2 linked regions of the Homo sapiens genome follow. The protein of the gene in region 1 interacts with the protein of each later gene in a pairwise test. Each region holds a gene or a part of one and is shown in the gene's direction. Other genes may lie near its edges.

Evidence for each region.
Region 2: the proteins of KLHL22 (region 1) and NUDCD3 interact in binary tests that used the Homo sapiens proteins (3 or more experiments, as listed by UniProt).

What each region holds. Positions count from the first base shown.
Region 1 is NC_000022.11:20,485,265-20,494,124, reverse strand, and holds part of KLHL22 (kelch-like protein 22), read left to right. Parts: intron 1-560; exon of another isoform or gene 561-866; coding exon of another isoform or gene 867-977; intron 978-983; exon of another isoform or gene 984-4,294; coding exon of another isoform or gene 4,295-4,357; intron 4,358-4,880; coding exon of another isoform or gene 4,881-4,913; coding exon 4,914-5,140; intron 5,141-8,860. UniProt on the Homo sapiens protein: Substrate-specific adapter of a BCR (BTB-CUL3-RBX1) E3 ubiquitin ligase complex required for chromosome alignment and localization of PLK1 at kinetochores.
Region 2 is NC_000007.14:44,403,099-44,411,958, reverse strand, and holds part of NUDCD3 (nudC domain-containing protein 3), read left to right. Parts: intron 1-7,375; coding exon 7,376-7,519; intron 7,520-8,860.

The sequences.
Region 1 (8,860 bases):
ATGAGCCACCATGCCCAGCCTACTTTGCACTTTTTTTTTTGGGGGGGGGGCAAAGTCTGGCTCTGTCGCCCAGGCTGGAGTGCAATGGCACAATCTTGGCTCACTGCAACCTCCACCTCCTGGGTTCAATCGATTCTCCTGCCTCAGCTTCCCCCTTCCTCAGCCTTCCCAGTAGCTGGGATAACAGGCATGCGCCACCACGCCCCACTAATTTTTGTATTTTTAGTAGAGATGGGGCTTCCTCATGTTGGCCAGGCTGGTCTTGAACTCCTGACCTCAGGTGATCCTCCCACGTTGGCCTCCCAAAGTGCTGGGATTACAGGCATGAGCCACTGTGCCCAGCCTACTTTGCACATTGTTTTTTTGTTTGTTTTTTTGTTTTTGAGACGGAGTCTCGCACTGTCATGCAGGCTGGAATGCAGTGGCGTGATTCTCCTGCCTCAGCCTCCCAAGTAGCTGGGATTATAGGCACCTACCACCATGCCCGGCTAATTTTTTTGTATTTTTAGTAGAGATGGGGTTTCACTATGTTGGCCAGGCTGGTCTTGAACTCCTGACCTCGTGATTCATCCGCCTCAGCCTCCCGAAGTGTTGGGATTACAGGCGTGAGCCACTGCGCCCGGCCACTTTGCGCATTTTGACTGTTGCCTAATGTTCTGTCAGATCACTGTGCCATGACATCTGTTCTCCTGAGGGTGGACGTTTTGGTGATTTAAAACCGTATAGATGTGGTTTTAAATGTTTTAAATGTTGCACCCTGTGCTGTGCTCCTTCCCAGCAGAGAATTGATTCATTTTTCAGCATATCCCCCTTAGCCCCTAGCTAAGTTTCTTAAATTGGACTTGGTAAATGTGCTTTGCCTGCCCATGGAAGATGTCTTTCTGTTTTACCGTACTTGTTTTTGCAGTATGGGTTTAGGGAGTAGCTGCCATTTATCCCTTCCCAAGAGAGCAGAGGCACTACTATGCTCACGGAAGGTGAGGATCCACCTGGGGGCTTGATGTCTATTGGGGTAGTTGTGGAGGTCACCCTCAGAGAAGGAGGCCCTCTTGACTCTGCGGTGGTCATGGTGGTGATGAGAAAGCTGAGGCGTGGGTATATGAGACAAGTGCCCAGAGTCTGTCATTAGCAAGTGGTACAGCCAGCCATGGGGGCTTTTGAGATGTTTGTGAGATAAAACCTCACCCCTCAAGAAGCCGGAATCTCCTTGTCGTGGGTAAATAGGCAGGTTTGGGCCGGGCGCGGTGGCTCATGCCTGTAATCCCAGCACTTTGGGAGGTCAAGGCAGATGGATCACCTGAGGTCAGGAATGCGAGACCAGCCTGACCAACATGGTGAAACCCCATTTCTGCTAAAAATGCAAGAAAATTAGCTGGGTGTGGTGGTGCACGCCTGTAATCCCAGCTACTGGGGAGGCTGAGGCAGGAGAATCACTTGAACCTGAGAGGCAGAGGTTGCAGTGAGCCAAGATCACACCACTGCACTCTAGCCTGGGTGACAGAGCGAGACTCCGTCTAAAAAAAAAAAAAAGGGCAGGTTTGAATGGTGGGGCATATTTGTCATGTTCTCTGTACAATGATAGAGGGAGAAGTAATCGAGCTAGACCTTGACCAATATGGGACTATGAGAGACAGAATGGCCTAGATGGGTGACTAAAGGTGTTCAGGGGATGACAGGTATCCCTTTTGGACTAAGGACTGCTGATGGGGCTGAGTAGGTAAGGCTTGAAGGAGAGCAGCCTGGGGAGGATGAGACAAGAGGTAGGGAAACTGGTAGGGGCATCACTGCTGTGGTCTGACCCAGAGTGGTGGCCCTGGAGGAGTGGAGGGTGGCTGTCTGAGATGGAGGAGAGGTGAAGGAATCAGAACTAGTAGGTTCATAGGGCACATGGGTTAGAAAGGAAAAATATTAAAACAGTGAGGTTTCCAAGATGGAAATGGTAGCTTTGATAGTAAAATTAGACAAGTTGGAGGGCTACTAGCTAGATTAGGCACTGAGCTGTAGGTGAAACTGGGAATGTGAACCACTGGGAAAGAAGGATGGGCTCGAGCAGGGTGTGTGGGATGAAAGAGAGAGGTCAGAAAAGGGAGAATTATCATAGAGCAGAGTTTCCAGGCAAGAGAATCCTAAGTGAGAGGTGGTCATGGGGTATACACCTTGGCTGTGGCCATCTCTGGGGCCTTGGTGAGAAAGATGAGCCAGCCCAGGAGGGGGAAAGGAATGGGTGGGTGGCTGGATAGAGGTCCCAGGTCCTGGAGGCAGACTCAGGGGCAGGCACAGATAACTGAGTGTGTTTGATGGGAAGCAGTAGAGCATCCAGGGGATGGGGTTGGGGGTGGCCCTGAGCCTCAGTAGTGAAGAGAGAGACCTCTTCTTTTTGGCAAGTTTTATATCAGCATATATTTTTCATTTTTTCTTTTAAAGATATATAATCATGTGCCACACAGTGATGTTTCCGTCAATGACAGACCAGACCACATGAAGGATGGTGGTCCCATATTTTTACTGTACCTTGTCTGTGTTTAGATACACAAATTCCATTGTGTTACAGTTGCCTATAGTATTCAGTACTGTGATATTGTGAAATATATATTTGGTCTTGTCTCATTTCTTGGCATACAACTTCTAAAATCTTTGGACTTTCCAGAGTGATGCCTTTTTGTATGCTGGCCAGCAGCCCCTAGGTAGCTTCAGGATGGGGGCTGGTGACAGGAAAGGCCAAGGCAGGCATAAGAGGGTTGGGACTTTCAGCCTCACCTCTCAACCTCCGGAGAGGGGAGACAGGCTGAAGATTAAGTTCATCACCAATGGCCAGTGATTTAATCAGTCATGCCTACATAATGAAGCTTCCATAAAAATTCTGAATGACTGGGTTTGGAAAACTTCTGGATAGTTGAACACATGGAGGCTCCTAAAGAGTGATGTTCCTGGAGAGGGCCTGGAAGCTCTGCACCACTTCCCACATGTCTGGCCCCATGCATCTCTTCATCTGTATCCTTTGCAATACCCTTTATAACAAACCAGTAGACATGAGTATTTTCCTGAGTTCTGTGAGTCGCTCTAACAAATTAGTTGAACCCAAGAAGGGGATCTTGGGAACCCAATTTATAGCCTATTGGTCAGAAGCACAGGTGAAACAACCTGGGAGACTCAGCCCTCAACCTGTGGGATCAGACACTGTCTCCAGGTAGTGTTAGAGTTGAATTAGAGCAGGGGTCCGCAACCCCCAGGCCTCAGACCTGTATCAGTCTGTGGCTGGTTAGGAACCAGGTGGCACAACAGGAGGTGAGTGGAGGGTGATCCAGCATTACCACCTGAGCTCCACCTCCTGTCAGATCAGAGGTGGCATCAGATTCTCATAGGAGCACAAACCCTGTTGTGAACCATGCATGTGAGGGGTCCAGATTGTGTGCTCCGAAAGAGAATCTAGCTAATGCCTGATAATCTGAGGTGGAACAGTTTGATCCCGAAACCATTCCCCGACCCCGTGGAAAAATTGTCTTCCAAGAAAGTGGTCCCTAGTGCCAAAAAGATTGGGGACTGCTGAATTAGAAGACACCCAGCTGGTATCTGTGGCAGAATTGATTGCTTGCTTGTTAATGGGGAAAAACCCTCACACATTTGGTCACAGAAGTCTCCTGTGTTTGTTGTTGTGGTATAAGAGGAGAGGAAAAACAGTGTGTTTTTTTCATTCAGAACTACAGTAACATGCTGTACAAGTATGTAGCTTAGGAGCAATTGGCTGTACCTTATGGCCTAGATGTGTAGTAGTCTCTACCACCTAGGTTTGTGTAGGTGTACCCTTTGATGTTCACACACTGAGGAAATTGCCTCCAGCGATATAAGTCTCAGAATGTATCCCCAACATTAAGTGATGCATGACTGGAGGTAATTGGAGAATAAACATATTTTGGGGAGAGGAAAGTAGGATGAAGTGAGGTGGAGAAGACAGATGTTCACATCTTGTAGCTGACTGTGCTGTGCCTACAGAGCCTGCAGCTTGGCCATGCCTCACAGTGTGGGACTGGCCACTCCCTGACCTGAACAGCTGGCTATCCACAGTCACTTTTGGTTGCTCCATGGCAAAAGTGCATTTGCAGTAGGTTCATTTTACTGATTAGGTTTTAGAGGCTCCAATTCAAATCAGTTTGCGGTTTTTGAACGTACTGACTCAATTATTAGAAGATAATCTTTAATTTAAAAGGCAATGCAGATGAATTTAAATGCATCAGGTTCAATCACAGTTACTGTGCTTGACTCTCAGAATTTCAGTAAAGGAAAGTAGGCCCTGGAAATGCCACCCCCTTGGCACCCACCTCCCAGACTCCTGGCTGTGTGTCTCCTGACCACTACTCAGGTCTTGCCATTTTTATGCATCCATTACTATGAGGAAGAACCCAATTTTGTTCATTCAATGGGAGGGAGGAAGAGCTCTTGAGAACCTGGTGTGTGCTTATGCTTCATGTTCATTGTTTTACCAATTTTAGAATACCCCAATGGGGTAGGTACTTTTATCTCTCTTTTTAAAATTGGGGAGCTCGAGGCTCAGTTTGGTCATGTTGTAAGTCCCTGTGGAGTTGGGCTCCAACCCAGGTCAGTCTGTTTCCCAAAACCCTTCTGTTTGACTTTGCCGCTGAAGAAGATACAATGAGATGAAGAGTCTTGGGCATGATGGCACACAGGTCATCAGGAAGAAGGCCATCAGGAAGTTGGACTAGAGGTGGGAGGGGAGAAGGAATTAGGGGATTTGGAAATAGAGGGAAAACAGGTGAGCCTGAGGGAGGCACAGGAGCAAGGGGAGCAACAGAGCTGGCCAGTCTGTGTGTGGTGGGGCTGATGCCTGCCTGCTCACCCCTGTCCCCTGTTTTGCCAACTGTCAGGCCACAGTTGTAAGGGATCTTGTGGCTGTCAGGATGGCAGAGGAGCAGGAGTTCACCCAGCTCTGCAAGTTGCCTGCACAGCCCTCACACCCACACTGCGTGAACAACACCTACCGCAGCGCACAGCACTCCCAGGCTCTGCTCCGAGGGCTGCTGGCTCTCCGGGACAGCGGAATCCTCTTCGATGTTGTGCTGGTGGTGGAGGGCAGACACATCGAGGCCCATCGCATCCTGCTGGCTGCGTCCTGCGATTACTTCAGGTGAGTTCACTAGAGCTGTTTGTAAGAAGAATAACAAAGGTAATCCTGGCTCTGCTAGTAAAGGTACTGGCGGTGACAGTGGCTGGTCTCCTGCTCACCTCAGAGCCTCCCCTACTCCTTGTGGCTATGACTTAGTCAACAAGTGTGAGAGACAGAAGGGGGTCTTAGAGTTCATTTTTCATTCAGTGATCCTGTTTCTTGGGCTTTGCCTCCTCTTCTCTTCCCTCTCTTCTCTTCCTTTTCTTTTCCTTTTCTCTCTCTTTTCTTTTCTCTTTTCTTTCCTCCTTTCTCTCCTCCCCTCCCTTACCATTCCTCCCCTCCGTCAGTAATTATTGCTGTGTATGCATCACCTTCTGGCTCACACCTCTCATCCCTCAGGTGTTAGCCTCTGGCCCTCCCAGTGAGCTCTGTGGCCCCTCTGGGGTTTCTTATGGCCTCCTTCGTGACCCCATCCCAGCACTTGGCACAGTGTGAGGAACCACTGGCTTATCTGTCTTTTCCACTGGGTTGGAATCTGTCTCTTATCCCTAGCACCTGACATGGTTTTCACATATTCAAACAATACCCATGGCTTAAATGAATAAATTTATGTACACAGATAGCAGATCAATACACCATTTGCCCTGTTGTCTGCACTGCTCTGCACTCAAGGAGGTGGGTGTCACCACCCTTATTTCACATAGGTGGCATGAGCCTGAGAAGGACTGAGGGCCACTCGTGGTCCCCAGCAAGGTTGTCATGGGACTCCAAGCCTGAGGTGTTCCATTCTAGCTCTGATTCTGTTCAATCATTTTGTCTTCAAGGCTTAGTTGTAGTTCTCTCTCTCTCTCTTTCTCTTTATCTCTCTCTATTTTTTTAATTAGGAACTATCAAGCAAAATATGTATGGTTTAAGTGCCTTCTGTCTCCAAAAGGAGTTTTGGAGAATGTGACCCAGTGGTGGCTTGGTGCAGATGTGTCCAGGAGCAGCAGAATTCTTTCAGTTCACCAGGGAAATTCAGCTGAGGCCTTTAATAAGCATTAAGATAACATACAGGACAGTGGGTAGGGTAGAGGAGCTGAGGGCCCCCTGCAGGGGACTTAGGACCTGTATAGGAGAGGATGGCCAGAGGCTGTGGAGCCTATGGGATCCCCTGGGCTCACCCTCTCAGCCCTTCTTGATTTAGTGTCATACCACTCTTTCTGAAGATGACAGTGTAGGCAGCCTTTCGCTAATCTGTCAAAAACCTTATGTGGCTTTCCACGTCCTCCAGGAGCAATTTCTAGCCCTTTCCACAGCCCCCCTTGGGTAAACCTCTTATGAGAGGTGTCCTGCTCTCCGGGATGATTACAATGCATCACTAACACCCCCTGCATCCCTCCACTTCCATTGGGAAGGGGAGCGGGAGAGTGGCAACATTATTGGAAGAGCCCAGAGTCATTTCACAGGGGGGTGTGTGTGTGTATGTATAAATAAGAAATAGAGGCCAGTCACGGTGGCTCACACCTGTAATCCCAGCACTTTGGGAGGCCAAGGCAGGTGGATCACTTGAGGCCAGGAGTTTGAGACTAGCCTGGCCAACATGGTGAAACCCTGTCTCTACTAAAAAAAAAAAAAAAAATTAGCTGGGTGTAGTGGTGGGCGCCTGTAATCCCAGCTACTTGGGAGGCTGAGGCAGGAGAGTTGCTTGAACACAGGATGCGGAGGTTGCAGTGAGCCGAGATTGTGCCACTGCATTCCAGCCTGGGTGACAGAGCAAGACCCTGTTTCAAAAAAACAAAAAAGAGGCTGGATGTAGTGGCTCACGCCTGTAATCCTAGAACTTTGGGAGGCCGAGGCGGGTGGATCACCTGAGATTAGTAGTTCGAGACCAGCCTGGCCAACATAGTGAAACTCCGTCTCTGCTAAAAATACAAAAACTAGCGGGGCGTGGTGGCACATGCCTGTAATCCCAGTTACTTGGGAGGCTGAGGCAGGAGAATCACTTGAACCCAGGAGGCGGAGGTTGCAGTGAGCCTAGAAAGAGGCCAGGCTTGGTGGCTCACTCCTATAATTCCAGCACTTCGGGAGGCCAAGGAGGGCGGATAACTTGAGGTCAGGAGTTGGAGACCAGCCTGACCCACATGGCAATACCCTGTCTCTACTAAAAATACAAAATTAGCTGGGCGTGGTAGCACATGCCTGTAATCCCAGCTACTCAGGAGGCTGAAGCAGGAGAATTGCTTGAACCCGGGAGGCGGAGGTTGCAGTGAGCCGAGATTGCGCCACTGCATTCCAGCCTGGGCAACAAGAATGAAACTCCGTCTCAAAAAAAAAAAAAAAGAAAAGAAATAGACCATTCCCAAGTGTTAGCATGTTTATTATTTGTTTTAGTTACTTGTGAAATGTTAAAATGATAAAGGACTATTTTTTTCCCAGTATGACTGGTAAATATGTGTGAGAGGCTTGTAATATTTGATATGGGCAAGGGTAGAGAGAAGGGCATTTAGGGGTGGGCTGGCCCATAGTTTAGGGCCCTGCAGTTGTATGTTGGGTGTCTAGGTGTCATTCCTGTGGGACGATGCACCCAGTGCTGAGACATGGTGCAGGACAGAGCCTTTCTGTGTTATCCAATGGAGCTACTTGCAAACTGGGCAGTGTGGTGTGTCTACTGATAGGGAGTGAAAAACCTCAGGACCTGGTGGAAGATGATCCCAACCATGAAGATCTGGAAGGATCTTGCTGCACCGTGGGGACTCAGCAAAGGGCAAAGGGAGAGGGAGGCTGAATTTCTTCTGTTTACTGCATTGTCTGAATTATTTTACAAAGAACATAAATTTCTTTTTTTTTTTTTTTTTTTGAGACGGAATCTCACTCTGTCACCCAGGCTGGAGTGCAGTGGTGTGATCTCGGCTCACTGCAACCTCTGCCTCCGGGTTCAAGCAATTCTCCTGCCTCAGCCTCTCGAGTAGCTGGGACTACAGGTGTGCGCCACCACGCCCGGCTAATTTTTTGTATTTTTAGTAGAGACAGGGTTTCACCATGTTGGCCAGGCTGATCTCGAACTCCTGACCTTGTGATTTGCCCTCCTTGGCCTCCCAAAGTGCTGGGATGACAGGTGTGAGCCACACCACGCCCAGCCTTTTGTTTGTTTGTTTTGAGATGGAGTCTCGCCCTGTCCCCCAGGCTGAAGTGCAGTGGGGCAATCTCGGCTCACTGCAACCTCTGCCTCCCGGGTTCAAGTGATTCTCCTGCCTCAGCCTCCTGAGTAGCTGGGATTACAGACGTGTGCCACCAAACCCGGCTAATTTTTGTATTTTTAGTAGAGGCGGGGTTTTGCCATGTTGGCCAGGCTGGTCTCCAACTCCTGACCTCAGGTGATCCGCCTGCCTTGGCCTCCCAAAGTGTTCGGATTACAGACGTGAGCCACCATGCCTGGCCTCTTCTCTGCCTTTTCTGTCCTGTGGAAATTTTTCTTCTTTGGCCCACCTGAGATGCCTCCTCCTCTGGAGAGCTTTCCCTAATTGTCCCTTGCTGTTTCCCAGGTGGAGGAATCTCAGTTTTCCTGAAGGGCAGAGAGCTGTACTGCCCTGCTGCAGGAAGCCTCCTGTGCTCTTTCTGTGTACTCTGTACATGGTTTAGGAATTGGATGGCCAGACTGCATTTTCTTTTTTTGACTTTTGTTAATAACTTTTCATTGCACACTTACTTTGGCTCCCCTGACCCTACACCCACCTTGTATGCTTTAACCTTGTATGCTTC
Region 2 (8,860 bases), on another chromosome or scaffold:
GGCATCTGAGGACTTGTCCTGTGGAATGAGGCTAGAAAGAGGCGTCTCTGTATTTCCCCACTGTGCATCTACTTGTACCTCCAATCTTTCCCTTTACCACCCATACATGGACATATGCTTCCAGTTCTCTGGACATATGTTTTCTGTCTTCACCACTAGGGTATATACCTATGGGTGGAATTGCTGGGTCATGTGGTACCTCTATAATTAACTTTTTGAGGAACTGTCAAACAGTTTTCCAAAGTGGTTGTACCATTTTATATTTTACAGATCCACCAGAAATGTATGAGGGTGCTTATTTCTCTGTATCCTCATCAACCCTTGTTATTGTCTGTTTTGGTTTTGTTTTTTAATTGTAGCTATCCTACTGGGTATGAAGTAGGATTTCATTGTTTTGATTTGCATTTCCCTCATGACTAATAACATTGAGCATCTTTTTATGTCCTTATTTTCCACTTGTGTATCTTCTTTGGCGAAATGCCTATTCAAGTCCATATGCATGTTTTAATTGGGTTGTTTGCCTTTTTATTGTGGAGTTGTAAGACTTCTTTACGTATTCTGGATACTACACCCTTGTCAGATACATTATTTGCAGATATTTTCTCCCATTTTATGGGTTGTCTTCACTTTCTTGATACTACTCTTTGAAGCATAAAAGTTTTAAATTTTGATGAAGTCAATATTTTTTTTTTTTGCTTTGGCTGCTTGTGGTGTTATATCTAAAACCCGTTGCCTAACCCAAGATCACAGATTTTAACTCTTGCATTTAGGTTTTTGATCCATTTTGAGTTTAAAAAATTTATTATATGCTATGAAATAGTTGTCCAACTTCATTTTGAATTATTAGACCAGTTTCATTCTTTTGCATGTGAATACTCAGTTCTCATGGTACAATTACTTGAAAATACTATTCTTTTCCCATTGAATTGTCTTGGTACTCTTGTCTAAAATCAATTGATCATAAATATATGAGTTTGTTACTAGACTTTATTTTGAGATAGAGTCTCGCTCTGTTGCCAGGCTGGAGTGCAGTGACGCGATCTTGGCTCACTGCAACTTCTGCCTCCTGGGTTCAAGCGATTTCCTGCCTCAGCCTCCCGAGTAGCTGGAACTACAGGCACGCACCACCATACCTAGCTAACTTGTGTATTTTTAGTAGAAATATGGTTACCCCCTGTTGGCCAGGATAATGTCGATCTCTTGACCTCATGATCTGCCTGCCTCGGCCTCCCAGAGTGCTGGGATTACAGGTGTGAGCCACCATGCCTGGCCTGTTACTAGACTTTTTTTTTTTTGAGACAGAGTCTTGCTCTGTCCCCCAGGCTGGAGTGCAGTGGCAGGATCTCCACTCACTGCAAGCTCCACCTCCTGGGTTCACACCATTCTCCTGCCTCAGCCTCCCAAGTAGCTGGGACTACAGGCACCCGCCACCACACCCGGATAATTTTTTTTGTATTTTTAGTAGAGACGGGGTTTCACCATGTTAGCCAGGATGGTCTTGATCTTCTGACCTCGTGATCCACCCACCTCGGCCTCCCAAAGTGCTGGGATTACAGGCGTGAGCCACTGTGCCTGGCTGTTTTTAGACTTTTAATTCTGTTCCATTGATCTGTATAGATGCCTGTCCTTATGCCAGTACCACACTGTTTTGATTACTGTAGCTTTATAGTAAGTTCTGAAGATTTTATTCCTTGTTTTTGTTCTGTTCCTTCATTATTGACTTGGCTTTTTTGACAGTTTGATTATGACATCTAGGTGAGGCTGGCTCCCTTTTAGTTTATTTTACTTGGAATTCATTGAGCTTCTTGGGTGTAATTTTTTTCATGTCAAATTTGGAAAGTTTTTAGCCATTATTCTTTCAAATATTCTTTCTTCTTTTCTCTTCTGTATGTTGGTATGCTTAATAGTGTCCCTCAGGTTCTGTGACTCTGTTTATTTTTCTTCACTGTTTTTTCCTCCTGTTTCGCAGTTTGGGTAATCTCAATTGACCTGTCTTCAAGTTTGCTTGTTCTTTCTTCTAAATGCTAAAAAGTGGTTTTGAGCCCCTTTCATGAACGCTTATCTTTTCCCCCTTTTACTTTTGAACTCCAGAATTTGTATTTGATTCTTAAAAAAATGGTAATAATAATTTCTATCTCGTTATCAGTATCAATAGTGATACTGATATTTATTGATATTCTCTACTTAAAAGACGTTATTCCCATACTTTCCTTTAGTAATTTTTGCATAGTTTTCTTAGCTCTTTGAGCATATTTAAAATAGGTGATTTAGAGACTGTTTTCTGCTAAGTTCTTCATATGTGGGCTTCCTCAGGGACAGATTTTATTGATTGCTTTCTTTTTCCTATGTATGGGCCATACTTTGTTGTTTCTTTGTCTAATTTTTTTTTTTTTGCTGTTATTGAGAAATGGATTTTTAAATAACACAATGGGGTGACTCAGGAAATCAGATGCTCCTTTCTTCCCATGGTTGCTATTGGTACGTGATATAGTTGTTCTTGTTTAATGACTTTTCTGAACTAATTCTGTAAAGTTTGTATTCTTTATTGTGTCTGACCAGTGAAATCTGTACTTGGTGAACTTAGTGGCCAAGTAATTATTAGATGGCGATTTCCTTAAACTCCTGGGATCAGTAAACACCTGTTTTTGTCGAGGGGCTTCATCTACCTGTTGGAGCATACCTTCATTGCTTGGCCTAACAGTTAAAAACTGCCTTAGCCTTTATTTCCTGCTGATGTTGAGTCAAAGTCAGCCAGAGGTGAGAGCTTAAGGCCTTCTTAGGTTTTTCCTGAGTGTGCAGTGAAGCTCTGTACATTCATGTGTCTTTCTAGATTCCTGGGAAAATGTCAAAGCTTTTCAAAGCCCCCACGGACATTTTATTTCCCACCTTTGCCTTTGGTTTGCCTCAGTTGTTATCTGCCACCTCAGGAGGCTGCAAAGTTAAAACACTTGCCGTATTTTCAACAGACACTCCTGGGTTGGGAGGAAGGCTTTTCTGAGTTTAGCCAGAAACAGTCAGTCAGTCTTGCAAATGAGGTCTTACAGGGAACCATCAGACAGGTCAAATGATGACAGTTCTTTGAGAATGAAGCTTTGAAAGAGCTCTAAGAGCACTGTTTTCTCCAGCGATGGCTGCTACGCTGTACCAGGAATGCGGCCTGCTGAGAGCCTGGAGAGTGGGGATGGGTCTAGGCCAAATTAAAATATCACAGAGCTCACTGTTCTTACTGAGATGTGGTTGTTTTCCTTGAATTAATGCTCCCTGGGTTCCTGCAAACCTTTGGTTAGTTTCCAAAATCCATAAGAAGTTGATACTGACAATTTTTGCCAACTTTTTGGTTGCTTTTATGGAGGAGAGCTTTTTGGAGGCCTGTAGTAACCACCATTTTCACTGACATCCTTTGGATCAGGAATCTCTTAAATCTTTTTTGTTTTCCTGAGGGTTCTTGCTGCCCTTCTTTTTTATCTTGTTATCAAAAATAGTATACTTCATCATAACCTCAGAATTACCCAGATTCATTAATACTGAGTATTGTCTAGAAATCTCTTTCTGCCTGAACTCCACTCTAGACTGGTTATTTCCTGTTCTGCTGTATAGCTACACTCCTGGTATTTTCTTCCTGCGTTTATAGATTAAATGCAGTTTTTGGACTTGAGTTGGATATTCCTCTTTTTCAGTTTTCATCCTCATTTTGTTTTTCTCAAAGTGATATATAATGTAGAATTGTTGTATATCTTAAAATGCATTTATTTTAACTTTTCACTTATTTCTCAGTTTGGGTGTATGTAGAATTCTAGCTTAAAAATAATTTTCCCTTGTTAGGATTGAAAGGGATATCTTCTTACACTCTGTGTAATTGATTCTGGAAGTCTATTCCATCTCTTTGTGAGTAAGCTTTTTCTCCTCCTTGGAACTTTCAGGACCTTTTTAAAAACACCCAGTGTCATAAAATTTCATGAGTCTTTCATTCATTCTGCTTAGCTCTTGGTGGGACTTTTCAATCTGGAGGCATATTTTCCTTTGGCTCTGGAAAATTATCTTATTACTGTCATAATTTCTGGAATGCCAAATTGATTGCCTGAATTGATCTGTGTTTCTACCTTGATTTCTTTGACTTTATCTTCCAGCCTCTTTATTGAAGTTTAATTTTAGCTACTGTATTTTAAATTCTTGTGTTCTTTCTTTTTGGCCTAATTGTTCTATTTTCATATTTTATTCTGGTTATATGGATATAGTGTCTTCTCAGATCTCTGTGAAGACATAAAATAGAAATATTTTTGGATATCTTTTTTCCAAATTAGCTCTGTATTTTTTTTTAACTTGTTTTCATCTGCCTGTTTTTTCTCACAAGATGCAGTCTTCAGTTCTCTAGTTTTTTTTTTTTTTTTTTTTGAGACAGAATTTCACTCCTGTTGCTCAGGCTCCTGTTGCAATGGTGCAGTCTCGGCTCACCGCAACCTCTGCCTCCCAGGTTCAAGCGATTCTCCTGCCTCAGCCTCCGGAGTAGCTGGGGTTACAGGCATACAACACCACGCCTGGCTAATTTTGTATTTTTGGTAGAGACGGGGTTTCTCCATGTTGGTCAGGCTGGTCTCGAACTGTCAACCTTAGGTGATCTGCCTGCCTCGGCCTCCTAAAGTGCTGAGATTACAGGTGTGAGCCACCATGCCCGGTCTTTTTTTTTTTTTTAATACAAAAATATTTTTCTCCCATTCTCTTGAGTGTGGGACCGTATTGATGGGTTTGTCTACTGTGTGTCTGAAACCTGCTCGTCCCACCACCACCGACAGCTGAGTGGATTGACCAGTCAGCTTTGCTTTATAGGACATAGGGTCTTGGCATCCTAATGCTTGAGTGAGTAGGACTTCACTTGACACACAGGCATCCACACTAGGTCCTCAGACTGCTGGTCAGTGTCTTTGGAGCAAGGTCCTCCATTCTTCTGTAGCAAACAGAGGGATTCCTGTCCCTTTCAGTGGGGCGTCCAGGGCCACAGCAGTTCCCACATGTGCCCCTGGCCTTGCTCCTGCTCTGCATACCTGCCGACTCCCAACTGGAGCCTATGTAGCTGTGGCTTCTGGATGTCTCCTACCCTATAGGATTTGTCTCCTGTGCCCCTCCTCCTTTTGTCTTCTGCAGATTTGTTGACATCTCATCTGTTCCTGGCCTCCCTCTTCCCCCATTTTCACTGTCTGGGGTTTTTCTCTTCATGCCTATTATGCCTGCAGTTCACAAGAGGTCAGAGAGATGGCTGTCTGTTCCCAGTGTGACATCTTCACCTGGGACCTCTGGAAGCATTTCTTGTCTGGTTTTCTCCCTTGATGATTTGGTTCATTCCCCTGGGTAGGCAGTGTGAGAAGCTTCCCCAAATTTGGAAATTATTATGTTATATAGAGCTGGGTGGGAGAATTATATTTGTTAAGTGAGCTTGTTCTTGTGAAGGCAGGCTGAGGAGCCTTGGGCCCTCTGTGTCGTGTTTCCATTGCACACAAGTTCATGGTTAGACATGATTTGGCCCAACATGTGTCTGGATCATTTCAGGAGTGAGTGGATCTGTTGTTCCATTTGCTCACGTTCCTCATGGTGTTAGAAGGTAGGGAGTGAAGCTCAGTTGCCTATTGTTCAATAGGACTAGCCAAGTAAATACCCTTTTCCGTGGTAAATTCCCCTATGAAAGGTCATGCAAGTGGAACTGCGATCTCATGAGAGGATGCTTCCTTGGAGTCTGCATGTGAACCTGGCAGAGCCGCCTGTGGTTAGCAGAATATCTTCGCTGTGTCCCCCAGTGGGCAGCCTTCTGCCACCTTCTCCCCTCACTGCATGGCTCAGGAACTATCTTTCATTTAGTAACTATCTGATGGGCTGGATGTGGTGGCTCACATGTGTCATCCCAGCACTTTGGGAGGCTGAGGCAGTAGGATCACTTGGGGCCAAGAGTTCGAGACCAGCCTGGGCAACAGCAAGACCCCTGTCTCTACAAAAAATAAAAATAAAATTAGCCAGGCATGGTGGCACGTACCTGTAGTCCCAGTTACTCGGGAGGCTGAGGTGGAGGGATTGCTTCAGCCCAGGAGTTTGATGCAGCAGTGAGCTGGGATCACGCCACTGCACTCCAGCCTGGGCAATGCAGTGAGGCCGTGTCTCTTAAAGAAAAAGAAGAAAAACTGACAGCGGTGACTCCTGCACATCATTTCTCCCATTTCCATTTTTTATTTACGAATATTTAAACTACAGTTAGGTTATGGTATTGTATTTCATTGGAAATACTAAACTCCAGTTTGGAAAATCTATCAGTTTGGGTTGTCTTTTTTTCCAATCATTTTATAAGCGTTTAATGAGCCATCTACCAAATGACATGGAGAGTAGCTTCCAAATTATTTTTATTCCACATACCTATTAGAAAAAAGTTTTAAGTACTTGATCCCAGTGTCTTCTTAATGCATACATTATACAGATACAAAATGTAAATGGAAGTTCTGTTTTATTTCCTCTTCTAATTACTGACCTGTGAACCTCCTGGGGTATGCATACCCTGCTTTGGAGACTGCTGGCTGGAATACATGATATGAAGTAAAAGGAACCCTACTCCCACAGCTGCCAGTCCAGTTCTGGAGACGGACAAGTGGTGGGGCAGGGATAGGTGTTCCTAGGGCGGTGGGGAAGGCCATGGGGCCAGTCTCTGCCTAGGACAGGCTCAGAGGGAGGAGGGTGAGCTGAGGCTTTTAGAGGCTTGGTTTTGTAAAGAACCAAGACAAAATGCAAAACCATGTGCGAGTGTTGGTGGTATATTGGTGAGCATAGCTGCCTTCCAAAACCAAAGGAGTTGGTCTCATACTCTTGGATGAAGACCAGGCTATAGTCAACCAGGCAGTGCAGTGGCTCATGGAAGGAAGAGGTGGTGCTTGTCTCTTGTACAGCAGTCCTGGGGTGAGCAATTCAGGGTGTGCAGCCCCCTCAGCTTTCTTGGTTGCTGTGGTCCAGGGCTGGGCTCCTGCGTCTCCCAGGTAGCCACAAGGGGAGGCAAGGAAGAAATACCACTTGTCTCCTCTGCTCACTTTTTGCTGTGACAATTGGTCTCCGTTAACTGGAGAAGGGAGAAGAAGATTGGGTCACAGCAGCTTCCACCACAGCATTTTACGTTACCAGTTATGCTGAGAAAGATTTTCTGGTGGATTTACTAAATGAGCTGACATCTTCAGGTTGCTCTAGGTATAAATTAGGCTGGTATGGTTTTCTTCACTGAGATGCCTGGTGAGCCTGATGACAGCGCTGTAGTGTGCAGTCAGGTACCTTGGAAACCATCACCACTCCCACCGTACAGCACACCAGTGGTCACCCTGATAGGAGAGATGATTTTCTTCTGCTGTGTCCCCAGGTCTCAGTGGCCCTTAGCAGCAGCTCCATTCGTGTGGCCATGCTGGAGGAAAATGGGGAGCGCGTCCTCATGGAAGGGAAGCTCACCCACAAGATCAACACTGAGAGTTCTCTCTGGAGTCTCGAGCCCGGGAAGTGCGTTTTGGTAAGTTTGGGCACCTGTGTGTAGGGCTCCCAGGTGGACTTCAAACCTGCAGTGATGCCCCTTTTGACCAACAAGCCTATTTACACTTAAGCAGTGAGGTTGTTAATTTCAGCTGCTGGGGCAGATGGGTTTTCCTGAGCATTTTCCATACTGCTCAGAGATCGTCTCTGTGGGCACTTGAGCTTTGGCCCTTTGAGGTCTTGGTCATTCCCAAGAGCTCCACTGTTCTTACATCTAAGGCAAAAACAAGTAAATTGAAAATGAAAAGCTAGGTTGAATTTTTACAGATGCTACTCTGGAGGGTACAGAGTTAATAAATTCAGAGAATCAGGCTCATTGACCAACTGGCTGTCCTTAGCCAGCTGCTGGTTAGGCATAGCTAAGAGTTCAGGACAGTGAGATTAAGGTGTGACTCCAAATGAACAGCTCACATGTTACCAGTTAGCAGACTCGCTCACAAATTGGGCTGCACGCCTGGGCCAGATCTGTTGGTGGCTCAGCTCCTTCTCCCCTGTGAAAGCTTTGAACCTTGTCAGTGGTGGCTCTGTGCTGGTGCCCAAGTGGAGGTCACCTACAGATAAATTGAGGCACAACATGTTCTGAACTAACTTGTTTCCTTTTTTTCTCCTACTGGGGTGTTTACAGGGCATGGTAAAAGGAATAAAGGTGAAAAGAAAAATATAATGTCTGGACAAAAGTCTTTAGAATTTTATACAGATATATTCTTCATATGTGCAAAGTATGCAATAAAGGTATCTGTTTTGGTTTCTATAAGACATGCTTGGCAGGCTTCTGCCTGGGCTTCCCTGGCCAGTGCTGACTGGCAGGGACAAACTATCTCTCAGGCTCACAGTGACTCTGTCCTGGCTGTCCTCATGCTCGGAGGGACATGCAGGCCAGGTACCGAAAGGAGTGTATTCTGTCAGTGCTGCAGAAACCTGGACCAACCTTGACTCTGGTCTTGATATCAAACCTGGACAATGGAGCTCACTCTGGCTACACAGAGGTGGGGCCAACCTGGGCACAGACAACATGCTCCTTGGTGCTGCCGTGGCCTCAACTGCTCACTCTCCTAGTGAGTGTTTCATCCTAAGCAGGGCCTCCTATTTAGGCCCTACGTGAGGCCCTATGTGTGATGTGTAGAGTTTCCAGCAATGGGGCTTGGACTGGCCCATCCCAGTTCTGACTCTCCTGGCCACCCAGGGCCTACCTCTGCTGATGGCCAGTGGTAGATGGCAGTGGTTCTTTTTCTAAATCTCACCCTGTGTGCTCCCCTGCCCATGGCATTCAGCAGCCAAAGACCAGAGAAGTGCTCTTCTCCTGCCTGCAAATACTGTGAAG